Linked DNA regions of Homo sapiens. The protein of the gene in region 1 interacts with the protein of each later gene in a biochemical or structural test. Each region holds a gene or a part of one and is shown on either strand. Other genes may lie near its edges. The genes, in order: CTNNA2, TJP3, DLG5, FRMPD2, SYNJ2BP, CASK and PTPN3.

Region 1 (4,191 bases):
AAATGTAAGAATGATCATCTTGCCAAAGCTGGCACAGAATAGCTGTCTTATCTGCAAGATTTCATGCACTGCTTTCTAAATTGAAAAGAGGCTTTGACCAATTAGTGATTTTCTAAAAAATCCAAGATTCCAGTGGACTTCAGACATGGTCTGTGTTTGGTGTATACCTGTTCCTTTCTAAGTCCCAACCTACCTACACTCATTCCTTAAGACTTCAACATTCTTGTGCCCAAAGGTTCTATCTCTCTGCTCTGGAGATTTGCATTTTAACAGGAATCAGAGAATTGGAGCCCAGATATTCTGCACACAACCTGAACAAACACCCTAGGATGCTTTGGAGGGTTACAACAAACTTTCCCAGAGCATACAGCTGGACTTCACTTTGTAATAACTTAAGCAGTTATTGTATATACTACATCAGCATAAAAAATCCATAAAAGCATCTTTTATCTCCCCTTCTTTTTAGCATTAAGTACAGTAGTAGGCATATAGTAGGTCTTCGGCAGGTGCAGATTAGCAATAGAATAACTACCTATTCTCATTTATGTTTCGTATTGTATTTGTAAATATGGTAAATTGTTCTTTTCTTACAACTCTTTAAATTTGGTGAATATATAAGGAATAAGGAACGTCAAAAGAAGCAGTAACAGAGTGGCAATTGCACCATAGTATTCTACAGTTGGAAGACCATTTGCCCCATCATTGCCACTCTGGTTCTTGGACCTCTGAGAGTGCACCCCCAATGAAGCACACCATTTCCTGCAGCAGGTCATTCTACCTTATCATTGTGGAATGAACTTCTTTGCTTCAGGCAGAAAAGGCTCCCCAAAGGAAACCAGCCTTTGGTCAATGTCACCTTTGCTTCTAGACTTCACACAGTTAATGATCACATACCATCACGCTCTACCCTCCTCATTTGCTGGGAGTTTTCCAAGTTCTGTTTCTATCTTTCTGACTACCCTTTCTGTCTTCCTTTTTGATTCTGGTCCTTCTGTATAGGGGTCTTCTCTGGCCTGCTCTTCTGGCTCTATTCACTTTACTAGTATGTAATTCACTAGTTTATGTCCAAATACCCCTGACATTTACCAGATCCCTATAAAGACTGTTATAGCTCCTGAATTTTGGACGCATATTTCCATCTACCTCGGGGCATCTCTGCCCACATGTTTCCAGGCTCCTAAAACTTGGCTGGGGAAATGCTAAGCTCATGTTCTATGTGACGCCTTCCTTTTAGGAAATATCACTATTTTCCTCTTATATAGGCTCCTTCCAAACAGGTAAATACCTTTATAAGGATACTGTCAGTTATTTGTGACAAGTCTCATACACACATTAGGAATCCTTTTCTAGAACACTAGCATAAATTAACCTGTACTGAATATGCCTGTTGGGTGTTATGTGCCCAAGTTTCAAAAGGCATCCTGCCATGGGAATATCTGCTTCTCATGAGGAGGATTAACGTGTGTGTATACAAGCCACAGCTAATGCATAATTAAGATGTTGATTATTTATCATGTTTTAGCTCTAAAATCTTTATATAATTCCCCAAAGCATTACACTGAAATGTTCTTTCCTTAAAGGCTACGTATTTTAAAAATGCCAAAAAAGTGTCCTAATCTTATTTGAAAGCTCTTCCGTTGAGATAGCCTTTGCCAAGAACATATTCTTCAAATAAGATGTGCTCTTTTAGCTGAAGATTACATTTAGGACAAAATATCTAGAAAAAGTTAATACTTTGTCAAGGCAACTTTAGAATTTGAGTAACCAGTTTCTCCTCCTTGGGGACTCCTGTTCTTGCCTCAGATATTTCTGGTTTCAAAACAGGGTGCCAAGGCAGACCTCTCTTCTCTGCTGATTTTTGTGTGTGTGTGTGTGATACTTTCAGAATAAGATTATCCTGGACCCCATGACGTTCAGCGAGGCCAGGTTCCGGCCGTCCCTGGAGGAGAGGCTGGAGAGCATCATCAGCGGCGCAGCGCTGATGGCCGACTCCTCCTGCACGCGAGACGACCGGCGCGAGAGGATCGTGGCGGAGTGCAACGCCGTGCGGCAGGCGCTCCAGGACCTGCTCAGCGAGTACATGAATAATGTAAGTCTTGGGATCTCCATTCTCATGTCTTGGTGGATTCTGTTCTGCAATCGTGTTGCTCTTTTGGAAGCATAGATAGCAGGAAAAGAGAACAGACCAGGTGTTTACCAAAGAGAGTCAGGTGAAACCAAAGAACTGCTTTGGGAGAGCGCGTGTCGTGTGTGTTGTTTCTGAATCCATTTTTTGTTTGTTTGTTTTAATATGGAACAGGTGGATGGAGAATAAGCTCTTTCACTTTTTACTTGGCTGATTTCTTCTCGGTCATTTTAGTGGCTGCATTTTGAAGTAGGTAAGATTTCAATTGGTAAAGGTAGATGATTGATGGAAACAGCTGAGGATATAGTAAGTCCTCTGTTACAAAGAGCACTTTTAAACCTAAGGATAGCTGTAGATGCGAATCTTCACCCCTAAGAGGCATTAATAAATCTACTAGGTTTAAAAAACGTGTGGATAGGGTTGTTTAAGGAAAAGTTCTAAATGTAGTAAAATTTGGAGGTGTTTTATTGATTCATAGTCAGGAATTGCTTATAAGAGTGAGTCTCTTAAGTTTTCAAATAGGTATGTATGACTGGTATCTAATTGTATTTTGGCACATAATAGCCATCCTCTCCTATAGTTGTAAAATGTGACAGTTTCTGTGTACCTGTAACCTGCAAGAAGGTGATGAAACTCATATTCTTTGCCTTGAAAGGCACTAAATTATGGCTGTATTGATTTGCTACATTCATTCAGCAGAGGCGATGCTTGCAACAGTGGATGATCTGTGCTTCCCCCTTTCCTGGACTTTCGGGTTTGAGATAATTTAGCACAAATTGGGGAAAAATGTAGATAAAGTGAGGTCTCGATATTACATTTTGAAGGAATGCCCTGTATAGCTACCAGGTGGGTAACAGAGACACTGAAAATCTGCTCACAGCTACTGAAGTCCATGTTAGGTATTATTAGAACACCCCGAGGCAATGCTGAAACAAAGCAGCCATTCAGTGTCTCTCCCTCCAGCATCTTACCACTCCCATCATGAGTAAAAATATGTAGCTAACAGACATGCAAGCAAGGAATGAGTGTTGACAGTAGCAGTGCTCCTCCTGCTGACCCTCCAGAGAACTCACTGAGAAAGCAAAAAGATGTCAATGAGAAAACCTAACAAACTAAAAAAAACAAAATTTGTTTCCTTTCCATGAACCTTCAGATTCTTTGATTTTGGAAGACTTGGCCTTTTTCAGCACACAAAGAATAAAATGTGGATGCATCATGTGGCACCCAGCTGCTTATGAGGACGTCTCTATAGGACCCTGGATGACCAACACTTTCTGTAATTTTGATCCATGGTATTACGTAGGGTGCAGCTAGAAATGTTGACCCCACAGTCTCCCAGCTGAGTGAATCTTTTGAATAGCAGATGTGTCAACGAAGAATGCTTATGAAATCTGAGACGCTGTTTGTTTGTTCGTTGTTGTTGTTAACAAAATAGCAAAGGGCTAATTACATGGATGTGGAATTTGGTTTTACATTAAGGCACGCTAGTGGTTCTATTAATGAATAGTTACTGCCAAAGAAGGAAGTAGAAACTACAGAGATCACAGTGATGGTTAAGATCTCAATATAAATAAATCAGACAAAAAAGTATGTTCTTCTAAATAGAAATCACAGAACGTGACTAAATAAGAGTTGATCAACACGTGACATGTAATTTTCAGTTTGGTGTCTAGAATCCTGCCAACTAGAAGTTTTTCTTTCAGTGTAATCTCATGCAGATCAGCAGAGCTGATGGATTTTTGTATTTTATTGACTCCAGGCACTTTTTGTTTTCTGTTCGCAGCCTCGTGATGCAGGAATGTTTTGTGCTTTATTGAAATCTTAGTTTCTATTTTGACATGGTTACAGACAATACATCAATGGGTATAGTGCTTAAATTTCAAAATGCACAAGTTCTATTCACATTGAACCATCATGATCAAAGCCTGAAATAAAACACCTCCTACTTGACATTTATGTAAACTGTATAACATTTAGTTGGACTTCACACTTGTTTGGTGATTTCAAGGTAGAATTGGATGCAGCCAGATCACCTTCATAATTCCTGTCCAGTGCACTCATTTCTC
Region 2 (4,191 bases), on another chromosome or scaffold:
AGAATCTGATCTCCCTCCTGGATGCCCTGCCCGTCGGCCGGGCTGCCCGCCTGCACCCCGGACACGAAGATGCCCACGTCATTGCCCCCTGCCAGCCGCAGCCCGATGCTCTTGCCCTTGAGGAAGCGGACCACACGCGTGTCGGGGCTGTACCTGCAAGGGGAGGCAGAGATGGGGTCAGAGCAGAGTGGGCGGACAAAGGGAGGGCTCAGCATTGTCCTTGGGAAAGCCCCCACCCCCTCCAGGCCTCAGTTTCCCCAAAACCCCCACTTAATGGTCCCACTCAACACAATGGATACAAGCAGGCAGGATTGCGCTGATGAGGGAGGCAGCCTGGGATGTAGGAGTTTTGAGCGGGTTTGCTTTCTTCTGGGGTACATACCCACGATCCTCCATGCTCTGACTGCTGGGCACTCTGTAGATGTCATAGCTGCTTTCCCTGGGCAACTCTGAAAGGGAAAAGCCAGTCTCTTTCCCAAGCACACTGGCTCAGTCCAGCCTCCAAACCTTTGCTTTATGTCCTCATCCTGGAAGGACTGTCACCCACCTCGAGTCCTTCTCAGGAAACCATGTCTCACCACTTAGGCTCAGGCCAACCTCCCCCAGCTCTGCCTGGCACAGCCTTGCTGTCAGGGATCAGAAATGTCAGGGACAGGGGTGCTCAGAGTCACCACCCACCTGACCGTTGCTCATCTGGTTCCGAGATGGTTCTGGAATCTACTGAACTTTCCCGCCGAAGCCGGGGACTCTCCCTGGTGGGGAACAGATTGGGAGTGAGGCAGGGATGGATTTCAAGGGGCCATTTTAAAAAGAATTTTAGGCCGGGCACGGTGGTTCATGCCTGTAATCCTAGCATTTTGGGAGGTCGAGGTGGGCAGATCACCTGAGGTCAGGATTTCAAGACCAGCCTGGCCAACGAGGTTAAACCCCGTCTCTCCAAAAATACAAAAATTAGCCGGGCATGATGGTGGGCGCCTGTAATCCCAGCTACTCAGGAGGCTAAGGCAGGAGAATTGCTTGAACCCGGGAGGCAGAGGTTGCAGTGAGCCAAGATCATGCCACTGCACTCCAGCCTGGGCGACAGAGTGAGACCTTGTCTCCAAAAAAATAAATAAATAAATAAACAAAATAAAAATAATTTTAATTTATCTGGGCTGGGCGTGGTGGCTCACGCCTGTAATACCAGCACTTTGGGAGGCTGAGGCAGGCCAAATGCTTGAGCCCAGGAGTTCAAGACCAGCCTGGGCAACATAGCTGGGCAATACAGACCCCATCTCTACCAAAAATATGAAAATTAGCCAGTCTCACATGACTCAGTCTCAAAACAAATAAATAAATAGAGGAAAAAGAAATTTTTTTTTTTAAGACAGAGTTTTGCTCTGGTTGCCTAGGCTGCAGTGTAATGACACGATCTCGGCTCACTGCAACCTCCATTTCCTGGGTTCAAGTGATTCTCCTGCCTCAGCCTCCCAAGTAGCTGAGCTTACAGGCACCCGGCACCACGCCGGGCTAATTTTGGTATCTTAGTAGAGACAGGGTTTCACCACGTTGGCCAGGCTGTTCTCGAACTCCTAACCTCAGATGATCCACCCTCCTCGGCCTCCCAAAGTGCTGAGATTACAGGCGTGAGCCACCGCACCTGGCCTAAGGCAGAGTTTGATACTAAGAAGTGGGGTGCTGCTGTAACCAACACCTACAAATGCGGACACGGCTTTGGAACTGGGTAATGGGTAGAGGCTGGAGGTATTTTGAGGCACATGCTAGAAATACAGGACTGCGTCCTCAAGGTTACCCCCAGTTGGAAAGCTACGCCCGCGTTCCCCTCTCCCTCCCACCTCCCTCTCCCTCCCTATCACCATTCTGGCCGATGGGTGATACTTACACGGGAGAGTCGGTCTGGCTGGCCTCGGGGCTCCGCTGAGCATGCCGGGGTGGTGGTGGGATGTGGGATGGTGGTGCCTGCGATAGCTCCGAGGCGAGGTCCGAGATGTCTGCAGGGGGAGAGGACATCTCATCAGCCATGGTCACGCCTTCTGGACTGGACCCATTTTACAGAGGGGTATATCAACACCCCTCTAAACAAAGGGCCCTAGACCAAAGTCAGAAGCTCAGTTAGAAGATTCGGCTCTGGAGCTGGGCACGGTGGCTCACGCCTATAATCCCAGCTACTCAGGAGGCCAAGGCACGAGAATCGCTCGAACCCAGGAGGCAGAGAATCGCTTGAACCCAGTGAGCCGAGATCGCCCCCCTGAACTCTTGACTTGCTGTGTGGCCTTCAGCAAGTTCCTGTCACTCTCTGAGCCTCTAGGGACCAGGCTCATTGATTCCTTGGCCCTGCCTGGGGCTTCCCACCTTCCCTGCCATCCATTCAACCCCCTCCCAGGTCCTAACCTCTAGGTCCTCACCCTCCAATGGCGAGCTGTCGCTGTCACTGACAGCAGGCGGAATGTTCACCAGGAACTGCCCACGATCTCTCAGCACCAGCAGGCTTAGCTTCCCTTCTGACTTCTCAATCAGTCGCCGGGTGTCGTTCAGTGACAGGTTCTGGCTAGACACCCCGTTGATCTGAAAGGGACCAGGAATGAAAGAGCGGAAGTGAGTTAATGAGAGATGGGAGACAGTAGAAACAGCCTGGTGTGGGGGAACTTGAAACAGACAATTCCCCCAGAGGTTGCTAAAAACAGCCACTCCCTAAGGAAAGTGTTGAATTGGATTCCTGCTGTGAGTGGAGACCACACCAAGAACTGAGCACCGAATTCTAGAAACAGAAAATGTTCTAAGAGGGGTGGGAGACACTGGGGAAAATGAGAAACAGGTTGACTCTCCTTTCTTACCAAAAGTGGAAATGTCTCAGGGGATACTAGGAACAGATGTGAGGGTGACATTATAAACAACTCTAACTGGAGAAGAGGGAGTATCAGATACTTAAAAGATACTAGAAACACACAATCTTCTGGGAGATAACTAGAAACAGATATCTAGAGTGGGGCGCGGTGGCTCACGCCTGTAATGCCAGCACTTTGGGAGGCAGAGGCAGACAGATCAGTTGAGGTCAGGAGTTCAAGACCAGCCTGGCCATCATGGTGAAACCCTGTCTCTACTAAAAATACAAAAATTAGCAGGGCGTGGTGGTGGGCGCCTGTGGTCCCAGCTACTCAGGAGACTGAGACAGGAGAATCACTTGAACCCGGGAGGTGGAGGTTGCAGTGAGCCAAGATCCCGCCACTGCACTCCAGCCTGGGTGACAGAGCGACACTCCATATCAAAAAGAAAGAAAAGAAAAGAAAAAAGAGAAGAGAAAAGAAAAGAGAAAAGAAAACAGTCATCTAGAGGTAGATTAGAAACACACAATTCCTAGAAAGAACTTAATGTCGGCCGGGTGTGGTGGCTCATGCCTGTAATCCCAGCACTTTGGGAGGCCGAGGCGGATGGATCACCTGAGGTCGGGAGTTCGAGACCAGCCTGACCAAGATGGAGAAACCCCGTCTCTACTAAAAATACAAAAAATTAGCAAGGTGTGGTGGTGCACGCCTGTAATCCCAGCACGTTGGGAGGCCGAGCGGGGGGGATCACCTGAGGTCAGGAGTTCGAGACCAGCCTGGCCAACATGGAGAAACCCGTCTTTTCTAAAAATACAAACATTAGCTGGGTGTGGTGGCGGGCACCTGTAATCCCAGCTACTCGGGAGGCTAAGGCAGGAGAATCACCTGAACCTGGGAGGCGGAGGTTGCAGTGAGCCGAGATTGCGCCACTGCACTCCAGCCTGGGTGACAGAGCGAGACTCTGTCTGAAAAAAAAAAAAAGAAACAGATAACTTTTTGAAGACACTGGAAATAATCAGCTGAAAGCAATTTGGAAATCAAACACTAGGAGTCACTAGAAACAGACTTTCAGGGGAAGAATCCAGAAAGATACCATCCTTTAGGGCAGGGCAGCTCCCCTAAACCTGGTGACTGGGTCATTAGCATCCAGTCACCTAGGGTAGGTCCAGGAGTCAGCTGCCCACATGAGTCTCTGATGCACATCAAAGCTAGAGGGTATTAGAAACAGACAACCCCATGGGGATACTAGAAACCGACATTTGGCTGTGGATTAGTAGTAGCTGGGGAAAAAGGGGGTTTTATGCCTGGCCATCTGCAACCTTTGAGATACAAGCAACAACACTGAAGGTAAATGCTTTGGGGCCCAGTT
Region 3 (4,191 bases), on another chromosome or scaffold:
GAGTCACCTTGTCCCTCAGGTAGATGGGGTCTCTCTGCTCCCTGTGGGGACAGCCAGACACCAGGCTGAGCACTGAGCCTCCTCCAGGCCCTCTTTCCTTCCTCTGTCCAGGCTAACAGGGGCCCCATCAAGGCAGGGGTAGGCTGTGGAGGGAGGCCCCATGTGCTCCCCACATAAAGCACAGCAACAGCCTGTAGGCTGTCGGGGGAGCTCTGGGCAGATGGGGGAAGGAGGGCCCCCCAGCACACACACTTGGAACAGATGCACCAGCAGCCCCTAGCGCAGGTCCCAGAAGCTCAGCAGCACAGAAAGGCAAAATGGAGCAGGGCCTTGGTGAGCCCTTGGCCCAACCAGCACAGGAGCCGAAGCTCAGCGAAGGCAACGGCTCCTGAGTCATGAGCCAGCTCGGGGCTGAGTGGGACTGTGCCCAGGCCACTGGCTCCCCTGCTCCTAAGCAGCACGTAGCGAGGAAAGGGGGCTGGGGCAGGAGAGGGGAGCTGTGCAGACCAAGCTGGCCATGCCCAAAAAACAGTGGCAGCACCCAAATGGCGGAGGGGCGCGAGGAAGGGGCTGCGCTTGGCTGACACCACCTCTGAGTAGGGGACAGGGCCGACAGGGAAGGGTCATTTTCTACACGTACTGCCTATTTCAAGACCCATAGGCCCATCTCTCATTCCTCAACCCCCCACCCCAACACACCCTGCTCCCTACTTGGGCTCCCAGCCCCACCTGTGACAAGGCCCCAGCGGAGCCCAGGGGGCCAGTTACCTACTTGATGTGCTTGGCGCTCTTGTAGTGGATGAAGATGACAATGGGGTAGATGTGCATGTGGTGGAGCCGCTCAATAGCGTGCGGAGCAATGTCCAGGAGGCAGTGTCGGTTCTGGGGTGGGGGGTGCAGAGTGAGCCCTGGCGGGCAGTGAGGGGCAGCCAGCCCCCTGTCCTGCCACCAGCAGGACCCACCTCACCTCACAGGGCTCTACCCACAAACAAGGCAGTAAAGCCACACAGTACACCGTGGGGAAACCATACCCACGAAACTCCCAACAAACCCCACTTGCTGTGAGGAAGGCCAAGGCTGGGAGCCAGGGCTTAGGGGGCTAGGGGTGCTGGCCAGCCCAACTCCAAACTTCCTTTCCCGCCTTTGCCCAGATACAGGGACCTTCTGAAAGCCCTGCCCCACCCTGGCCTCTGAAGCCTTATTTTTGCCAGACTGAGCGAATGAAGAGCCAGAGTCTGGTGAGCCTTTGTGTGGCTGAGACTGAAATATGTCTGTCATGTCTGTCGTCCCAGGCATCCAGGTGGAGTGCAGGCCCGTGCACTCCCGACCCCCAGATGCTCCACTGGGGCATTCCCCCAAGTAGAGTTTGCCCACTTTCAGCAGTGAGAAGCCAACACCTTCATCTAACAGAGAAGGGAAGCAAAGCCCAGCGAGCGAGCTGAGCAGCCTGGAGAAATGGAGCCCAAGGAGCGGCTGTGTCCTTGGACTCCGAGTGTTTGCCCCACCAGCACTCCCCACAGACGTCCCCGCCCTCGTGCTGCCTAGGATGTTCGAAGGCACCGAGAGTCATAGCCCTTTTAGGGGCAGGGACCCTGAGGGAAGGCACGTTCCTGTCCCCAGAAGGTGCATGTGAAATTGTTCGGCACATGCATTTGGGGACCCCGTTCCGGAATGCCCTGCGAGAGGCCTTTCCGCAGAGCTCAATACTCTCATCAGAGATGAGACCCCCCGCACCTGCCAGAGAGGAAGATGGGGCGGCACATACACAGGGGAACTCCTCCATCCCCACCAAGGGATGTGCTTGCAGAAACACACAGCAGCCATGAGGGCAAGCCCAGGCACAGGTGAACTCAGACTAACACAACACGGTGGGCTCACTGAAGGTCTGAGCCGCTGGGGCAGAGGATCACGGACCAGGGGCCTAGACCTGTGCACAGGAGGTCTAATACTGGATGCCTAATCCTCAGACTGAAGCCCTGGGTACCTTTTCTGTGATCTCCTTTATTGACGCCACAGTGGTCACATCGAAATGGCCGCTTCTCCGCTTATAGTCGACAAACAGGCAATCTTTGACACCCCGCTCAATGGCCTGCTGGGAGGCCTTCATCACCTCTGCAATGCACAGACACAGGAATCAGGGAGCCCCAGGCCCTGCTGAGCCCCAGCAGAGGGAGCAGGGGAAGAACACTGCTCAGCAGCTGTCAGTAACCCAGTCCTGCCATGCATGAATCTGACCCATGTCAGCAGGCTTCTGGAACACTGTGAAATCTGCCCCCCGGTACTGCCACCCACTGTGCACAGCTGGGCAGGCAGGTGGACAGGGACATAGAGACAAAGAGCCCAGTAGGCACAGAGGGTGCCCCGTGCCCCTTACCAAGGGGACATCTGCAGAACTTGCCAGGAGCCTCATTCACCAGCATCTCCTTCACCACGTCCAGCAAAGGCCCCAGAATCAGGACAGGCCTCAGAGCGGTGCAGTCCACCTTCTGGACCCGCTGATAGGCCAGGCTCACCGAATCTGAGGGAGAGAGAGCAGCAGCGTCACGGACCCAGCTTGGAGTGGAGGACCTGAGTGGGGCTGGGGAACCCCGCTCCCTGACCTCGCCCACTCTGGTTTGCCTGGGACTCCCCCAGCTTCAGCACTGAAAATCTCGTGTCCCAGGCACAACCGGGCATCGTCACCCCTGGAGTCCAGCATGAGCACCCCCCATGCCCTCTGTGAACACCAGAGGCAGCTGGTCTCAACCACTCATCCCAGAGCTTCCTTCTGCTCTGATTTTTCCTCGTGGGTCGACGCCTGCTTCCCCTGCCCCATCTCCATTCTCCTCTGCTCTCTGGCAAGGCAGCCTCTGGGGTTTGGCAGGTAAAGCTCCCACTCCCCAGGAAGGTGTGGTCAGTGTAACCCAGACCTGCCCAGTGACAGGTGAGGCCTCCCCAATCTGCACGGCTAGAACAGGTGAGTGCTGTGAGCCAGCTCTGGCCATGCAGTTGAGGATAACCCTTAAGAAATGGCAGAGGCACAAGATGGAAGGGACCTGGGTCCTGGATGATCCTCAGAACGCAATGCCTCTCCCACATCAACCACAGCTCAGACTTGTACATGACAGAGAAATAAACTGCCCATTATGCTTAAGCCACTGTTATTTGGTTTCAGTTAAAGCAGTCAAACCAATATCCTAGTTGATACATGCAGTAAACCTCCCCTTGCACCAAATGAATAAAGTCCTTGCAGGGAGACACAGTCTAAAACCCAGCAAGATCTTCCTGGCGTCTCCCTGGTATAAGTCACTGTGCTGGAATCTCAGAAACATAATAAAGAATAGAACACAGAGTTCCTGCCATTAAAAAGCACACACTTTAACTAGAGTCACAACAGAGCAACACATGAACAGCAAGAGAGCACGCAAGAGCTGCCTGGCAATTCCAGGAGCGGCGGGCTTCAGTAGACACTGTGGCTGGATGACAGGGTGAAAAGACCACTTGGGCAGGCCCAGGAGGGAAGTGGGATGAGAGTCTCCAGAAAGAGCAGGGCAAGAGGATGAGTATGGAGATGATGGGGAGGGCAGAGCACAAGATGACTGCAGGCTTGGGAGGAAGGGTCCATGAGAGGCTTGGCCTGGAGGGATCTGTACGCATATGCAGAACAAGGAGTGACTGCAGAGCAGGCACAGGGACCAGGAGGCAGAAGGCTCAGGAGAACACAAGCACAGTGCCAGCTGCAGCAGCAGGCTCCATGAAGAGCAACCTGTGGGCAAACTCAGGGAGTAAGTAAAGTCTCTCCTCTCCTCTTGCCCTGTCCCTGTGTGTGTGTTTTTTAGAAGTGATCACTGCTGGGCATGGTGGCTCACGTCTGTAATCCCAGCACTTTGGGAGGCTGAGGCAGGTGGATCGCTTGAGGTCAAGAGTTTGAGACCAGCCTGGCCAATAAGGCAAGACCCCTTCTCTACTAAAAATACAAAAATTAGCCGGGTGTGCTGGCGCACACCTGTAATCCCAGCTACTCAGGAAGCTGAAGCACAACAATCACTTGAACCCAGGAGGCGGAGGTTGCAGTGAGCCGAGACTGCACCACTGTACTCCAGCCTGGGCAACAGAGCAAGACTAGATCTCAATAAAAATAAATAAAATAATAAAACTGATCATTATCCACATACATCCACACAGTCTTTTACACAGCACTTCCTAACCTGG
Region 4 (4,191 bases), on another chromosome or scaffold:
ATTACTCAACCATAAAAAGAAATCAAGTACTGATACATTCTACAGCATGCATGAACCTTGAACACGTTATGCTAAAGTGAAAGAAGCCAGATGTAAAAGCCTACACATTGTGTAATTCCATTTATATGAAATATCCAGAATAAACAAATCCATAGAGGCAGAAAGTAGGTTTAGGTGCCATGCTTAATATGGAGTACTCACATGTAGGATGTCTACAAAGAAGTTTCAAAACTTAACAGCAGAAAGCAAACAATCCAATTAGAAAAATGAGCAAATGGCATGGAAAGACATTTCACTGAAGATACACACATCGCAGATAAGCACATGACAAGATGTTCAACATCACTGGCCATAAGGGGAAGGCAAATGAAGTCTATAATGAGATATCCCTCCCCACCTATATGACAGGAAAAAAAAATAAAGTGACAATACCAAATGCTTATGAGGATACAGAGAAACTGGATCTCTTCTAAGTTGATGGTGGGAATGTAAGTGGTACAGCCACTTCAGAAAAGAGTTTGTCAGTTTCTTTTTAAAAAAGAGAAAAACTAAACATACTCTTACTATACAACTGAGCAATTGTGCTTCTGTGCACTTATCCCAGAGGAAAAAAAATGAATATCCACACACAAAGCTGCATGTGAACGTGTGTGTTTTATTTGTAATAGCAGCTTTATTTGTGATAGCCAAAAACTGTTAAGTCAAAATGTCTTTCATTTGGTGAATGGTTAAACAAATTGTGGTATATTCATACCATGGAATACTACTCAGCAATAAAGAGCAAACTATTGATACGTGCAACAGCTTGATTAGATCTCAAGGGCATTAGGCTGAATGAGAAAAACCAGTCTCAAAAGGTCACAGCTTGTGAGACTGATCTCAGAGATAGTAGAAGCAGGGTGGTAGGGAGTAGAATGGGAGCTGGGGGAGATCTTTGTGGCGATAGAATAGTTTTGTATCTTGATTGTGGTAGTGGTTACATAAATCTACACAAGTATTACAATGGCATAGTACTTTACACACATATTGTACCAATGTCAAATGTCTGGGTTTGCCATTGTGCTGTAGTTAGGTAAGATATAATCACTGGGGGACACTGGAGGAAGAGTATAGGGACTTCTCTGTGCTCTTTGCAACTTCTTTGCAACTTTTTATCTGACCATATATGAAAATTAAATGTAAACAAAAATATGCAACAGATTAGGAGAAAATATATATAATGGCAAAAGGGTTACTATTTACTCATCAATTAGAAAAAAACAACTCTTTAATTTAAAAGTTAAGAAATAAACAGGTGAAAAAATACAACTACTCAATAAATATTTGAAAAGATTTGCTGTGTTTCTAGTAAATCAGGGAAAACAAAACAGCAATGAGAATTTATCAAGAGGGTCAAAAATTTAAATATTTGATGTTAGCAAGGTGGGGGCTGCAGACCAGGCCCTCTCATAACACCCATTAACATGGGAATTAAATTGGTATAGATTTTTCAGAGCCATCTATCAAAATTGAGAACATGTATTTGCCAAGTCCCAGCAATGCCAATTCTCTGCCTCCTAGGGAACATTTCTAAGCATATAGGAAATAGGATGCACAGAGGCGTGTTGCATGTGGATGTTGCTGGTGGGGCAGGTGGTACCTAGTACAAGGGTGGCCAGCGTCACTGAAATGCAGCCTTCAGAGGGATGCAGAAGCTGAACAGGCCTGAGAGTTCCCCCTTCACGGAGAGCATAGCCTTCTCTCCTCCTGCAGTGATGATTGAGGGATAAACCTCTGGCTGATGGGACTCAGGCAGGGCCAGGCCGTCCGTGGGTTCCCAGCCTAATGCAGGTTGAGAAGTGGCTTGCCCTGTCACAAACCCCACTGGGTGAATGCTTTGTTTAAAAATTTTCCTCTAGAAGTGAAGCAGCTTCATTCAGTCAAATTAATCCATCCAGAGCAGACCATTAAAAATACTGGTTAGTGAAGAGGGGGTCCTTAACTCACACTTGACAGACCCAGGAGACCTGCTGTAGCACAGATGGGAAATGGGAGACAGCCAAGGTGTGAGGGTGAAGGCTTGTCCAGAATCCCACTCCGAGTGGTTTCAGGGAGAGGACTCTGGTCTCAAGCTCTTCTCCTGGGCTTTATTTACCACATACCCCTCCTCAGGCCCTGAGTCAGGAAGTTGCTTCCCACAGTGATATCTACAAAGAGCTATACAGCCAGCTGGGATAAGGGATGAAGGTCAAACCGAAAGTGACTATTTCTGTGCAAAGAATCAGAGAGAAAAATCTTATGGGCCCAACAGCAGTAGGTAATTGAGAAAGTGAGACTAAGAAAAGTCATAAAAGAAACGGTGATTCCTTATTAAACAATATGGAAAAACTGTCCACTCCTGCCTATAATCCAAGGAGCTGCTAGTGGACGTGGTCTCGAGGCCCATTTTCATCCCTCAAGTGGGCTTCGATGATGAGCGCTCAGTGCCCATGAGGTGGCAATGACACTGTTCCTCTCAGAGACCTTACTTATGTGTGGCCAATTTGCGACAGCTGATTTGTAAAGCAGTTTGGCAATCTGTATCAAAAGCCAAGGGATGTCCATTCCTGCCATCAGGGTCTTCCTCTTCTGGGAATTGATGCCAAGAACATAATTGACAAAGATGTATATTCAAAGATATTTGCCATGGTATTATTTGTAACAATGAATAAAGGCAATGCCAAATGTCAGTGGTCTTTGGGTTTCTCTCTGCCCTGGCTCCCTCTTCAAATCACTCTACATGCTCCAAAGTTACCAACCATCAGTCCATCCCCTCCACAGCCATGTCTTAAGCTCAGACCCGTTTCTTGAGCTCCTGCTTGGTGATCCCAGGATGTCCTTTAGACAACCCCCTTAGATGTAGAGAGCTGAATTCACCTTCCCCCCACCTCCTCCTCTTTCAACCTCTCTTATTTGAATACAGCAAATGGCATTCCCACCACCTAACCCCTCAAGCCAAACATTCAGACGACATTTTTGTCTCCTTCCCATCCCTCAACTTCCCAGCCCGTTAATCACCATCTCCAAAATCTCTCTAAAATCCGCCTGTTTCTCTCCAACCCCACCACCACTGACCTGGTCTAAGCCACCAGCACCCTCCCCTGAATGACCACTGAAATGTAAATTCTACAAAATGGTTTCCTACAACCATACCTTGCCCCTGCCCTGATCCATTCTCTGTCTTGCAGAGTCCTCTTCCTAAAACACAAATCTGACCATGTCACACCTCGTGAAAACTTTCAGCCACTTTCTATTCTCCAAAGGATCAGCTCAGATCCTGAGCAAGATTTGCAGGACCTCAGGCCCACCGCTTTGGACTGATCTCTAGCAGCTTCCTCTTTCCCCCATGGCCTTTTTCCAGCCTTAGACGCACCACAACCCCCTTGCCTCCTGTCCTTCTGCAGGCTCTGTGGGGACACTCGCATCTGGAGCTCCTTCTTCCCCCACTGGCTGAATGACTCAGTAAATTAACAAGTGAATACTTCAGATGCTGCCTGCACTCTGGACTGGCATCATACAAAAATGATACTGATAGAAGAAACAAAAGAAATTCCTAGATGGCACTTTTTTAAAATGTCTAATACATTTACTCTCCAGCCAGACACTGTTTAACCCATCTTGAATCTATTGAAGAGTGAGTTCTGACAGCTCAGCCTTGATCTGCCTCCTGCCTGGCACCAGCCCTCCTGGAACTGGTTCCTGTGCACCATCCTACACATCTCCTTCCTGCCTCCCTTCACTACCTACTCTATTTCCAACAATGTTGGGCTATGATAGCTCAAGCAAATACAGGAATAAGGAGGCTTACAGCCAAGGCAAGAAAAAAAAAGGGAGGGCAGTTAACAGTAGAGCTGCCAGCGACCAGTAAAAGGAAGCCTGAGGAATAGGAATCAGCCTCGAAAGCAGACTTCTGCCAGGAAAGCAGCTAAAAACACTGATATCTCAGGGTGAATACAATTCAGGAGGGGAATGAGAATAGAAAAGCATAGTGGCTGGAAGAGCAGGCTCCGAGGTCAGAGCTGGATTGATCCCACCTCACCGTGGGCAAGTTACTTCCTCTCTTTACTCGTTTATACCATGAGTTATTGTGTCTGGCATATGGCAGTTTTTCAATAAATCCTAGCTATTCATATTATGAATCCTGAGTATATGGAGAGGGCAGGGAATAGGCTA
Region 5 (4,191 bases), on another chromosome or scaffold:
TTAAACTCATAAAAACAAATATTAGAATGGTGGTTTCCAAGGACTTAGGGAAGAGGAACTGGGGAGTTGCTAATCAACGAGTAGTCAGTTTTTTCTACAGTGAATAAAAGTTGTCAATTACTATGCCCAAGTATAGATTGAGTAGCCCAAATCCAAAAATCTGAAATTTGAAATGCTTCCAACTCCAAAATTTTTTAAGGGCCAACATGACGTTCAAAGGAAATGCTCATTGAAGCATTGCAGATTTCAGATTTTTGGATTAGGGATATTCAACTGGTAAGTTTAATTCAAATATTCCAAAATCCCCCAAATTCAAAATTCAAAACACATTTGGTCCTAAGCATTTTGGATAAGGGATACTCAACCTATATATGGTTGTACTTGAAGTAGCGAAGGAAGGGAGAGTAAATTTGGTGATTTAGTCCTACCATGAAATAGCAGTTACCTTTCTGGTTCTGAGGTTTCTCTGCCAATACCTACACCACTGCCTCCACCACCAAAATGGAAAAAAAAAAAAAAAAAAAGAAACTCTCAAGAGATTTTTCTAAAGCACTATCATACATAAATTCTCCAGAAGCTTGGGAGAAGGAAAGTGTGGAAGGGAAGGTATGGTTAGAAATCTCTCACACTAAATTAGGAACAGTTCATTTGATAATTGGTAAAAATGCATAGCTTCTTTTGATGAACACAGCTAACCCTGCTGTAGTAATATCAGGAATGTCAGGAATTGGGTCCTTTGAATACCATCAACAGGATCAAAACTAAATGTGAGTAGAAGAACTTACATCTAGGCTGGGCATGGTGGCTCACACCTGTAATCCTAGAACTTTGGGAGGCCAAGGCAATAGTGATTGCTTGAGGCCAGGAGCTCATAACCAGCCTGGGCAACTGAGCTATGAACTCCTGAGTAGCTGGGATTACAGGCGCCCACCACTATGCCCACTAGCAAGACTCTGAAAAAAAAAAAAAAAGAAAAAGAAGAACGAACTTAGAGTAATCACCATTATTCTTTAAGTTCTATATAGATCTTTCTTTATATATTGAACAAAACAGGTGGATCACTGTGTTTATATTTTCAGTCGTGCCTCATTTGAGTGAGCAACTCAATACTCTTGATATGGCTGACCTTGTTCATGACCATTCACCAGCTCCATCACAGGCTGACTCGCCAGCATCTCCTCTCCATCAGCCTTTCCTCCCCAGTAGGCTTTCCCTCCCTTTCTCTTCATCTTCTCTAATCTCTTTCTTTCTTCTTCACCCCCATCTTTTTACTCCTCCATGATTTTCTCAGGGCTGGGCTTCAACATCGTCGGTGGGACAGATCAGCAGTATGTCTCCAACGACAGTGGCATCTACGTCAGCCGCATCAAAGAAAATGGGGCTGCGGCCCTGGATGGGCGGCTCCAGGAGGGTGATAAGATCCTTTCGGTGAGAATGGGCTTCGGCCTCCTTCACTGTCCTTTGCTCCCTAAGCCCTAGGTCCTACCCCTCCCTATCCCTTTTCCTTGAAAAGATTTGGATCTGGAAATATACAGGTTGTAGAGTTGAATGGGAACAACTTTGATCAGTCATTCTTTCCAACCCTATCATTGAGCATGGAGGGCAACATTATGCTCACCTGATAGATGAGAATGTGAAGCCCAGAATGTGAAGTTACTTGTTCAAAAAGCACAAGGCAGGAAGCAGCGAGGGACTCATATGGGGAAAAGAGATTTAAAATCCACAAATTTTGTCTTTCATCCATTACTTTATCACCTCCTTTTGTTGATTAAAACACTAATGTGTATCTTCCTTTGGGGGAATGTCAGCCCTTATAATTGGATTTAACATCACAAAACAGAAAGAAGGAAGGTTGGAGTTAAGTGTCCTTTTCAGACTCAGAGCCCTTTTTCACCCATTATTAACATGAAAATTTGGAATGCAGTTGATTTGGGTACCTGTCCGCTGTGTTCCCATTTCATCCTGCTAATGTCTCTACGAAGACATACTACATGGTAATTATTAATCTTACTATTTTCCAGAATATTTCCTCAAGGGCAGTGAAAAGATCCTTTTTTTTTTTTTTTTGAGATAGATTCTTGCTCTGTCACCCAGGCTGGAGTGCAGGGTCGTAATCTTGGCTCACCGCAACCTCTGCCTCCCGGGTTCAAGCGATTCTCCTGCCTCAGCCTCCTGAGTAGTTGGGACTACAGGCCCCTGCCACTACGCCCAGCTAATTTTTTATATTTTTAGTATAGACAGGGTTTCACCATGTTGGCTAGGCTGGTCTCGAACTCCTGACCTCATGATTCGCCCACCTCAGCCTCCCAAAGTGCTGGGATTACAGGCGTGAGCCACCGGGCCCGGCCTAAGATCTTTTTTTAACCTTTTGAATCATAGCACAGTGCTTAATAATGTTTAAGAAATGAACAAGTTAAGAAATTCAGGCAAACCTAAAAAGGTTGACTGATAAATATGGGCCCACAGACCTCAGGTCTTAAAATAAATTAGAACAAGCATACAGTCAAAACTATTAAAATGCAAAATATAACTCTGGCCCTATTGTTCATTTCTCTACCTTACCATGGGCCACAGTAATCCTATGATACTATCAGTTTGCTGGGGGATAAGGGAGTATAGTTGGAGATAATTATTCTGTAGAATTTCTTTTTTTATTAATCTTCAGGACTAGTGAAAAATGGCCAGCTTATTACTTGTATGGAAACAGTGCAGATGATTGGTATAAAGAATGGAAAAATGCTGAGGGGGTGAGATATTATCTAGAATATTCTTGGGAGAGCTGGCTTCAAAGGGCTAGACTTAAATAAAAGGAAATTGAAATAGGATAGGGCTTCGGAGCCCTATCCTCTCCAGATGGGCCATAAGCCCATGGTCCGAAGAGGAGAAAACTATTCCCTGTTTTCTTTTAGAACTGAATAGGGCAAGATGGCCACGTTGGGAAAACGTTGAAATAAATGAATGAAGTACAGACAGGAGAAGTCTTGATTGGCAGAATTAAGTATTGGTCTCAGATACATGATTTTGAACCTACCTCTATAATGAGTTAGCTTCATCCCTTAAAAATTTTTTGCTATATAGTTTCATTTGAATTTTCCCTTTCACATTACTTCTCATGCAGTTCAGGTGATTAGTGATTAAAGGTCATATGTGTGAAATCTCTTGCTCTTCTTAGTTGTCAGCTTATTGAACACCTCTCTGCCATGAAGCCCATTTGGTAGCAGAACCTGAAGGCAGAGATACAAAGGAAAAGAGAGAGAGAACATCCACCTTTTCTTCATTTGGCATCTGAGTATTTGAGTGATCAGGCTCAGCAGTATGGTTCTGAATGCCTCTTCAGGAAGACTGTGACTCCACTTAGTCCCCCAAAAAGAAAGAAAATCAGAACAAGTAGCTATTAGAGCCACCTAAATTAGCTCAAGAATGTCTAAGCATGTGTCCTCGCTGATCCATAATATAAATATAGTATCAAGCACTGCAGTATTTCAGTCCTTCTCATTGACTATTCTGCCTCTCTTCAGTCCATTAAGCTTCTCCTAGACCCTGTTTATTAATCAGTGAGATGGAGACAGTGATAATATACCTGTCTTCTCAAAAGGATAGTGAAAAGTTTAGAAGCAGATTATTTCCTTTAGCTCCCAAGGAAAGACATTCATCCAATATGAATCAACTTGGCAGTGGTACTGTAAGGAATGCTGAGAGTGGGTTGTTAAAATAAAGGTGTAGCATTTAGTTAGAATCTATGCAGCTTAATATTTTGACACATAAATTACATTATCCTCAGAACACTGGAACCTGGGCTCTGTGGATGAAGAATAGTATAGGAGTTAAGAAGAGAAAGAAGAGAGCTGTATTATTTTAAAAGCTTTGGTTAAACGTAGATTATTGCAAAATGAGAATGGTGAGAAGTATTTGAGCACTAAATGTCAGGTAACATGCTAAGAACTTGAAATTTATTTTGTTTAATATTATAGTAATCCTATGAGGTGGGCATGATTATTGTGCCCAAGCCATTTGCCCAAGGTCACACAATTAGTAAGCAGCAAGGGACTCAAACTGGTTTGTCTGAATTTGTAGCCTTTTTTTAAACCACTATGTTATACTGTTATACTGCCTCCTAAAAGGTAAATGAGGAGCTAGGATTAGTTATCCTAAAGACAAAGTTACATGGTGAATTAATAGTAGATTGCATGT
Region 6 (4,191 bases), on another chromosome or scaffold:
AATAATAAAATTTAAAAAATAATAATAATGACAATGGCAATTAAAATAACAACCTTTAGACATTTCACATAGATCATGCTATTCAATCCTCACAACAACCTTACAAAGTATATACCATTAACCACATTTTACAGATAAAGAAACTGAGGGTCAGAGAGGCTAACTAACTTGCCCAGGACCTCATAGCTAGAAATGAATACATAAATGAACAATGAATAAAAGTTAGCACCACTAACAATTTTACACACATGGTAGAAAAGAATGTTCATTTCACCATATTATTTATGTAATAGAGCCTGTGTTTAGCACTGAGAATGTGCACATTTGGAAATTGTTGAAACTTACGTACATAACTGCCAAAAGTAATTTGAGTATCTCAGAGACATTCTAGAAATAAAAAATACTTATGCTGCACTTTACAATTCACTAATCCACACAAATGGTTTGTGAAGCAGCTATCATTCCTTTTATAAATAAGGAGAAAATAGCCACACTGTGCCCAAAGGTTACCAGATCAGAAGGGGGCTGCCTAACAAGCCACAGAGCAACCGCATTCCATACCTTTAGGGGAAATCACATACCAAGGGTAAGAAAGAAGGCCAAGAATTGATGATGTTTTCTAAAAACACAAATTAGAATCTATGAAATAGCAGTAGTATAATGGTAATCTGCACACCATGGAAGGACTAGAGAGAGAGACCTCTGTAACTGAATGAATATCATCATCCTTTAATTTAAGAAAACATTAAAATCTGCATGTAGTTGAATGGTAATACAGTGTACTTCTATCCTAGATTTAAATATACCAAAATACTCTAACTTAAGTGTTAAAAGCCTGAAATACAGACTGAACATAGTATATTTTGGATATTATTAAACTACATGAGAGACAGAACAATCCACATTCTTACCTGCAAATGATTCAAATACTCAAAACAATGATTACAAAGCAAAAAGGAAAGAAAGTATATTAAAAGAAATCACAAAGATTGGGAGAAAAAACAATGTACAACAGCCCAGTAATAAATAGAATACAAGAAGCTGAAGTGAAATAGCACGCACTTAGATACCAAAAAACTGGCTTATGTACAACGAAGCAATCGTTTCTTATTGTGAATGGATGTGGACAACCAAAAATAGCCAATGAACAAATTTAGTTAGGAGGTGATGGGAGAAGAAATGTGAAAGAGGAGGACAGTACTACATTCATCCAACGTGGACAAAAATCCTTGAGGCTAGAAAGAATTCAGTTTCCTATAGTAGAAAGATATAAGACAATAACAGTGGTTTGACACATACCAAGAACTTAAAGTAAATGTAAAGTATCTAAAACTTACTTTGTCACTTCATGAAAGGCTTCCATTTAATTGACAGTCATGCACAAGCTCGGGAATGAAAAGGACATAATCTTAGGAAAACCAAATGATTTTACCTAAAAGCCAGTCATCAGAAATCTGCAAAACACAATTAGAGTGAAAAAGAAATCTACTTTGTTTTTACCCTAAATATGTTGGTTCTGAGATAGATTTACAGAGAGATAGTATAAAATTACTAGTATCCACAGAAAAGAAGCCAGACCTAGCTTTTCAGACACATCATGAATTGACTATTAAACATAATATTCATTTTGATAAGTGCTTTAAATTGTTTCTCTGTTATAGCCACATGTGTTCTTAGTCCTCAGAGTATATTGGCATTTTACATTATTGATCCTCCCCCCTCTTTTAAACTTCTGTGCAGCCCATTATCCTGATTCTTCTAACTCTATGAGTTATACTCCAAACCACGAGCCCTAGAGCAGTCAACCCCCAAGAACTTGTTCACTCAGTTTTACTTCCACACAGATGACTCCCAAATCTTCACTGCCATTCCATACCTCTCACCCAAATTCCAGCTCAGCATTTCAAGCAATGTAAAATTACAATTGGCTTGCACTCAATCCAAAGCCAAAGTAACAATCCATATGACAGAATACTGGGCAGCAGCTAAAGAGGAGATAGAGACAGACAGATACATTGATGGATATGACAAGATCATCAAGTATATACTATTATTCATGAAAAATCAATATTTCAGCATAGTATACAAATATCTCACTTTTAAACAAAAAGCTTCCAGAAAGATGGAGAAGAAACTGAACAATGGTTACCTCTAGAGAATGGGGATATGGATGGTAGGAGAATTGAGACAGACTCACTACTTATCTTTGTATCACCTATATTTTAAATTGTATGGCTGGGCACAGTGGCTCACGCCTGTAATCCCAGCACTTTGGGAGACCAAGGCAGGTGGATCACCTGACGTCAGGAGTTCGAGACCAGCCTGGTGAAACCCCGTCTCTACTAAAAATAAAAAACTAGGCTGGACGCGGTGGCTCACGCCTGTAATCCCAGCACTTTGGGAGGCCAAGGCGGGTGGATCACGAGGTCAGGAGATCAAGACCATCCTGGCTTACATGGTGAAACCCCATCTCTACTAGAAATACAAAAAAAAAAAAAAAAATTAGCCGGGCGTCTGTAGTCCCAGCTACTCGGGAGGCTGAGGCAGGAGAATGGCGTGAACCTGGGAGGCGGAGCTTGCAGTAAGCCGAGATCGCGCCATTGCACTCCAGCCTGGGCGACAGAGTGAGACTCCGTCTCAAAACACACACACACACACACACACACACGCACACACAAATTAGCCAGGCGCGGTGGTGCATGCTTGTAATCCCAGCTTGTTGGGAGGCTGAGGCAAGAGAATCACTTGAACCCAGGAGGCGGAGGTTGTAGTGAGCCAAGATCGTGCCACTGCACTCCAGCCTGGGAGACAGAGCGAGACTCCATCTCAAAAAAAGAAAATAAAATTTACTACGTGCATCATTACTTTTATAATTTACTGTATAAAAACTAATTAATAAAGAAAAGTAACACAAAATTATTAAATCTCAATGTTGGAAATAAACATTAACTTCAAAACAAACTAGCTTCGGAAATGAAATTTTCCCAGGGTAGAAGTCAGAGACTCTATACTGACTTGGGCTCTACAACCAATACCATAGTGGCTCCAGGACAGAAAGGAAGGAGAGCAAGTTCTGTAGCATCTTAAATCCCACAGCATAAATCCAGAGCCATATTTGGTGCTTCTAGAATCTTCACTGTCAGTTGCAACTAAAAAATAAAACCAAAAAATGTGAGAACAGCACATCCCATCAGCTTGTTGGCTGGGGTCCGGTACCTGCTCTGCAATAGTTAACTCAGTCTCTTGATTATTTAAGGTGTACAGTGCTGGCAAACAGCTAGAAGCTCACAGACTCAGCGGCTGCAGCTCACTACACGGTTTTCAGAATCAGAGAGAACAATCTCCGTATTTTTATCACAGGATAAAGGAATAACTATCCTTTGGAAACCACTCCACCCCACTTCCAACAAACATCTACCTCTGAAACCTTATTACTTCTGGTTTGGCAAGTTAGGGGTAATTAATCAACTATCCTGTCTGTTGGGGCAAGGGAAATGGAAGAAAAAATTTGGAGAGTAAAAGAAGTAGAGAAAGTTCCAAAACAAATTATATTTTGGACAGATGGCCAAGAGTCTATATTTCCATTGCTAGATTTACCAGTTAGTTTGGTAACAAATGCTGATGTTTCATTAAAGAGAAAGACAAAAATAAAAAAGAAACAGATGAAAGAATGAATAGTATATGGAACCTCTACTGAAGAAATAAGAAATTTAACCAGAAAGTCAAACAACTAAAATTTGCAGTATAGAAACTCTGAAAATGAAGACGTGTCTTTAAGAAAATCCAACACAGTATTTTCACAACTTGAATTAGCAGCAGAATGCAGCATGAAATGAACAGACTTTAAAACCATGGAACCGCGTTGGAATCTGTGTGATCTTAGGCGAATTACTGATCACCCCCTCTGAATCTCAGTGTTCTCTGTAAAATGGGTATGATTAAATAATACATCCAAAATGCCTAACATTAGAGGGATAAATGTCAATCCCTTTATAAAGTAAGCTTTAAGTTATAGAAGTTTTTTAAACAACCTTATGTCAAAGTTCCTTTAAATGCAGTGCTCCTACCACATTTAAAATGTGAAAACGTTTAAGAAAATGTAATAATTCAAGAATAATCTCAAGAAGCAAGGTATATCTGCTCCTTCAATTTATTGAGTAGAACTACAGCTGGAGACAGAATTTTCAGTTT
Region 7 (4,191 bases), on another chromosome or scaffold:
GCATTTGGTCCCCGGTCTGAGGTCACAGAATCTTTGCCACCTTTACCGAGACTGCTCTCAGCTGAGGACAACAGGCAAGAACCAGAAGGTGGCCATCCTTGTCTTTGCATTCAACAGCGCCAAAGTCTGAGGGACAAACTCTTGGTGACAAGTCTCAGAAATGTGACATGTCTCTGTAGCAGCCATAAAGCTTTGGTTTAGGATTAATTTTGATTCTCTGGAATATCAGCCTCCCAGAATGGCAAATCTTGACCTCATCTAGTCCAGCCCAACCTTCCCTTTTTACATATAAGAAAACTCAGGGTTGAGGGCAACATATCTTGCCTAAGTCCAGGTCTAGACCCAAGCCCTGCCTCTCACAATCTTTCCCCATTTCTGCTGCCTCTTTGTTGCCTCTGGAGGATGAAGAGGGCTTTTTCGCTTGCCCTCAAATGCTCATTTCTGAGGTACCCCCCCCAGAAAAAGGTCAGGTAGCAACACAGCAGCAATAGTATCCACACTAATCTAAAAGCATATTTAAATATGAATTACTGTGGTAGGAAACGAAAGACAACTGTGTGATCCAACCACTGCCCCCTAACCAAAGTTGCATTTTTTTCTTCTGGAAAGTCAAAACACCAAGTGCAGGTTCTAGAGGGTGACACCAGCAGGGATCTCTCATCTTGATTAAATTGGCACATCAACATGTTTAATTAGATCTTTCAGAAAGTGCCAGAACATAGGATGTAAATGTCTTCTCCATTCATATGCAGCCAAATTTCCCAGGCAAAATACTTATCCTGATTCTGATGTAGTTCTTCACTTAGGACTAAAAAAAGGCTTAAGTATAATTGCTTAAGTGTATAAGGTGGTGAAACAGGAATCTTGAGCTACGGATTTTAAGTGGTAATAGCTACAGGATTTACTTGAATTGTTTGCTCTTTTAGGTAATTCTCTTGTCTTGTTCTTCCCAGTATTTCCTGGATTTGTTCCTGGCAACCTCGCTGGGTCTGAACTGCTGGCCTGCCCAGTGGCAGAAGACTGCTTGCAACCTTTGGTAGGCTTTTTAGAAATTTATGTGACCGTAATGGCTGCATTTCTGCAACCATAATAAACAATTTGTTTTTGGAAAAAAGCAGTAAAACACCCATCTCCAAAGACATTTAGACTACTTTGCAAGCATTTTGCACACAGGGTGATGATGCATTTTTACCAAACAGTAATAACTTGCTAAATATCCTAATGGCATTTAAATTTTTGCCAGCGTTCCCTCCATCCCCCTTTCTTGGAGCTTGCTGAATTTTTGTGAGTCCAGATTATTTTGTGCTCTTGTTCTCTCTCTTCTAGAAGAGCATTTTCTATTTTCCTCTCATAAAAACCCAGTTAGGCTGGGCACAGTGGCTCACGCCTATAATCCCAACAGTTTTGGAGGCTGAGGTGGGAAGATCACTTGAGGCCAGGAGTTTGAGACCAGCCTAGGCAACACATCAAGATCCTGTCTCTACACACACACACACACACACACACACACACACACACACACACACACACACACACACACACACAAGCCAGGTGAGGTGGCATGTGCCTATAGTCCCGGCTACTCAGGAGGCTGAGGTGCGAGGATTGCTTGAGCCCAGGAATTTGAGGCTGCAGTGAACAATGATCATGCCACTGTACTCCAGCCTGGGCGACAGTGAGACCCTGTCTCTAAAAAGAGAGACAAAAATCCAGTGGATTCTATTTTTGACTGATGTGTTTTTGGGCTAATCACTGATAACTAAACTTTTCTAAGTAACTCACCCACAGCAGTGTCTGTTGCTGTTCTAGCCGATAAAAAGTCACATGAATAGCGTGATCTTATTCAATCCTCATGTTCCAACTAAAGTCCTAAGTATTGTTTCTATTTTACAGATAATGAAAGAGAGGTAGAGCTTCTAAGCAACCAGGCCCGCAAGTAGTTAGTGCTGAGTGGGCGTAGGAACTGAATCCCCTGCCCCTTAGCTGCAAACTTTCTGGTGGTTTCTTGTTTTCAATATGGGGTTATGGTACTGTGTGACATCTCCCTCCCACCTCTGCCATTTAGCAGTAAAATATCCATGTGGAAAAGAAACAAAGTATGCAAGTAAATATGCTAGCTCTAGAGATAAAGAATCTCCCATATAGGTCTTCATCCGTCTTGCTACCAGCAAACTATTCAATTGGCACCGAATTTGCTGAATATCAAAATGGCTTCATTTATGTGCATTATAATATGAAAACATCTTTTCTATAAATACCATTAAGAACCTGGCTTTACTTCCTCTTCTGAGTACATAAAAACCGCTGTTCAAAAATACCACATTAAATGTTTACACAATTTATTTTCCTTAAATAATAATTTGCTACAATCCTGTCACAAATTTAAAAAAATTTAACACGGTATTCACAAAGGCAGAATTCTTTAGGACAATCAAAATGATGGTGTTCTTAGAATAAATTAACATCAGATTGTGTTTATATTCAGATAGTCTGATCCTCTCCTTTGAAATGCAATGGAGACCATTGTGACTGGGGGTGAATGCACACATTTGTTCTTCCATACAGAGACTCATTCTTTATATATACTCAACGGTAATTTGAATCGTTAGGAATCCTGAGAAACACTCACCCCTGGGCACACACATGTACACAGCCCCACGGCCAACCCTCCAGAAGCTGGGTTTCCCATGGTTCAATTACTAGAAGCTCTTTTCTCAGAAGGCCAAACATTCGGAATATTTAGATGACACTGTCCCATCTCCCCTTGGGAAAATCATAAGGTTTCAAGTGGAGGAGCTTGAAGTAGCAGCAATACATGTAGGAGATTCAGTAGTCGGTGATTCCAGTCCTGGGTGCTGAGTGTGCAGTAGGAGGCAAGCAGAGGCAAGAGACACACCTGCTTCTACAACTAAGCCACAAGATGACCAGAACACACTGAGAGTACCAGTTCTCAGAGCCTCAGCTGAAAATTCACCTGAATGCACATTACTAATCCAGGTTAGGCACCAAGAGGGAACCTGAAGAGGGACACAATTCTCAGAAACATGAATATTGGAAGTCGCTGGGAGATGGGACAAAGGGAGGGAGGGCAGAGAGGTGTTGCTCAGCCTTCAGCCTGACCCCCAGTGCCCTGCCATCTAGTACATACGTCAGGGTTTCCTTAGCATCAGGGCGGGTGAATCTGAATTGTTCCAGCTCCACCTAGAAGCACAGAAAGCTCAGCCCTTACAGTCTGACACACAGAAACAAACAAAACATCCAAATGACCCAAGATAACCACACCATCTTGTTGCTGGGAGGACAACAGCTCTGTGGGTGTCCGGTCTCAATTGCTCCAGGATGCCGACAGGGGTGTGTGTGGTGATGTTAGGGAAGAAGGCATTAGGACAGGCCCCAAACTGAGATCCTTTTTGTATCTTTCCATAGAAATACAGGCCTAAATGATGCCATAATTGCATGCTTATCTACACCAGTTCCTATGTACACGATATCTTTTCTATAGAAGTTTAAAGTGCCTGGGTTCAGAGGTGCCCATTCCTTTCCCACAGCTACTGGTTCCTCTTGCTGCTTCCAGAGAGGTCTGTCCTCCTCTTTCAAGGAGGATGCCCTTGGGAAAGAGGAATGAACTTTTTCACAGTTGTCTTAACTAGGATCCAGCATTTGGACTAAACCTTCTTCATACACACGAAGAATCGCTTCACACACAAACTTGTACTGGCTCTGGAAAAGAAAAAAATGCTGTCAAGTCCTGTAGCTCCAGGAAATGCTGCCTACCACACCCTGTACCGGTGGGTCTTTTGCAGCATTTGTAAATATTCCCTGAGCGCCAACTCTGGGCCACAGGCCAGGTACACCTGTGAAGCCCTAGTTCCTATATGATGCGGGGAGGGGGCACTCCCAGAGAGGGGTGGGCAAAGTGTCATGGAGACATGACAGAGGGAGAAACTGGCGGTCTGGGGGAGGTGGGAAGGAGCAAAAGTCCCTGCGGGACAGCCCTTCTTGTAAGTGGAAGTGTGGAAGCCTCAGTAAGAGCCCATTTTGAGAAACGGGGTCAGGGAGCCTGCTCCTGGACTCAACACCTAGGCATGTGGAGGAGGAGGGGCTGCACAGGTGGGCTGGGACCTGGTTGTGGGCACCTTGTGTTGGGGTAAGGAGTCTGGATTGTGTTTTACAAAGCAGAGCCACTGAAAG

Evidence for each region.
Region 2: the proteins of CTNNA2 (region 1) and TJP3 interact in a test that uses a peptide from one of them, tested with the Homo sapiens proteins (one large-scale study listed by IntAct).
Region 3: the proteins of CTNNA2 (region 1) and DLG5 interact in a test that uses a peptide from one of them, tested with the Homo sapiens proteins (one large-scale study listed by IntAct).
Region 4: the proteins of CTNNA2 (region 1) and FRMPD2 interact in a test that uses a peptide from one of them, tested with the Homo sapiens proteins (one large-scale study listed by IntAct).
Region 5: the proteins of CTNNA2 (region 1) and SYNJ2BP interact in a test that uses a peptide from one of them, tested with the Homo sapiens proteins (one large-scale study listed by IntAct).
Region 6: the proteins of CTNNA2 (region 1) and CASK interact in a test that uses a peptide from one of them, tested with the Homo sapiens proteins (one large-scale study listed by IntAct).
Region 7: the proteins of CTNNA2 (region 1) and PTPN3 interact in a test that uses a peptide from one of them, tested with the Homo sapiens proteins (one large-scale study listed by IntAct).

The regions. Positions count from the first base shown.
Region 1 is NC_000002.12:79,907,709-79,911,899, forward strand, and holds part of CTNNA2 (catenin alpha-2), read left to right. Parts: intron 1-1,885; coding exon 1,886-2,089; intron 2,090-4,191. UniProt on the Homo sapiens protein: May function as a linker between cadherin adhesion receptors and the cytoskeleton to regulate cell-cell adhesion and differentiation in the nervous system. Required for proper regulation of cortical neuronal migration and neurite growth.
Region 2 is NC_000019.10:3,732,127-3,736,317, reverse strand, and holds part of TJP3 (tight junction protein ZO-3), read right to left. Parts: intron 2,566-4,191; coding exon 2,406-2,565; intron 1,992-2,405; coding exon 1,883-1,991; intron 753-1,882; coding exon 679-752; intron 450-678; coding exon 383-449; intron 154-382; coding exon 1-153. UniProt on the Homo sapiens protein: TJP1, TJP2, and TJP3 are closely related scaffolding proteins that link tight junction (TJ) transmembrane proteins such as claudins, junctional adhesion molecules, and occludin to the actin cytoskeleton.
Region 3 is NC_000010.11:77,794,077-77,798,267, forward strand, and holds part of DLG5 (disks large homolog 5), read right to left. Parts: intron 2,519-4,191; coding exon 2,375-2,518; intron 2,113-2,374; coding exon 1,985-2,112; intron 883-1,984; coding exon 773-882; intron 42-772; coding exon 1-41. UniProt on the Homo sapiens protein: Acts as a regulator of the Hippo signaling pathway.
Region 4 is NC_000010.11:48,267,799-48,271,989, forward strand, and holds part of FRMPD2 (FERM and PDZ domain-containing protein 2), read right to left. Parts: intron 1-4,191.
Region 5 is NC_000014.9:70,385,707-70,389,897, reverse strand, and holds part of SYNJ2BP (synaptojanin-2-binding protein), read left to right. Parts: intron 1-1,291; coding exon 1,292-1,428; intron 1,429-4,191. Other genes in the region: SYNJ2BP-COX16 protein, read left to right, coding at 1,292-1,428. UniProt on the Homo sapiens protein: Regulates endocytosis of activin type 2 receptor kinases through the Ral/RALBP1-dependent pathway and may be involved in suppression of activin-induced signal transduction.
Region 6 is NC_000023.11:41,913,349-41,917,539, forward strand, and holds part of CASK (peripheral plasma membrane protein CASK), read right to left. Parts: intron 1-4,191. UniProt on the Homo sapiens protein: Multidomain scaffolding Mg(2+)-independent protein kinase that catalyzes the phosphotransfer from ATP to proteins such as NRXN1, and plays a role in synaptic transmembrane protein anchoring and ion channel trafficking.
Region 7 is NC_000009.12:109,375,914-109,380,104, forward strand, and holds part of PTPN3 (tyrosine-protein phosphatase non-receptor type 3), read right to left. Parts: intron 3,721-4,191; coding exon 3,643-3,720; 3' UTR 1-3,642.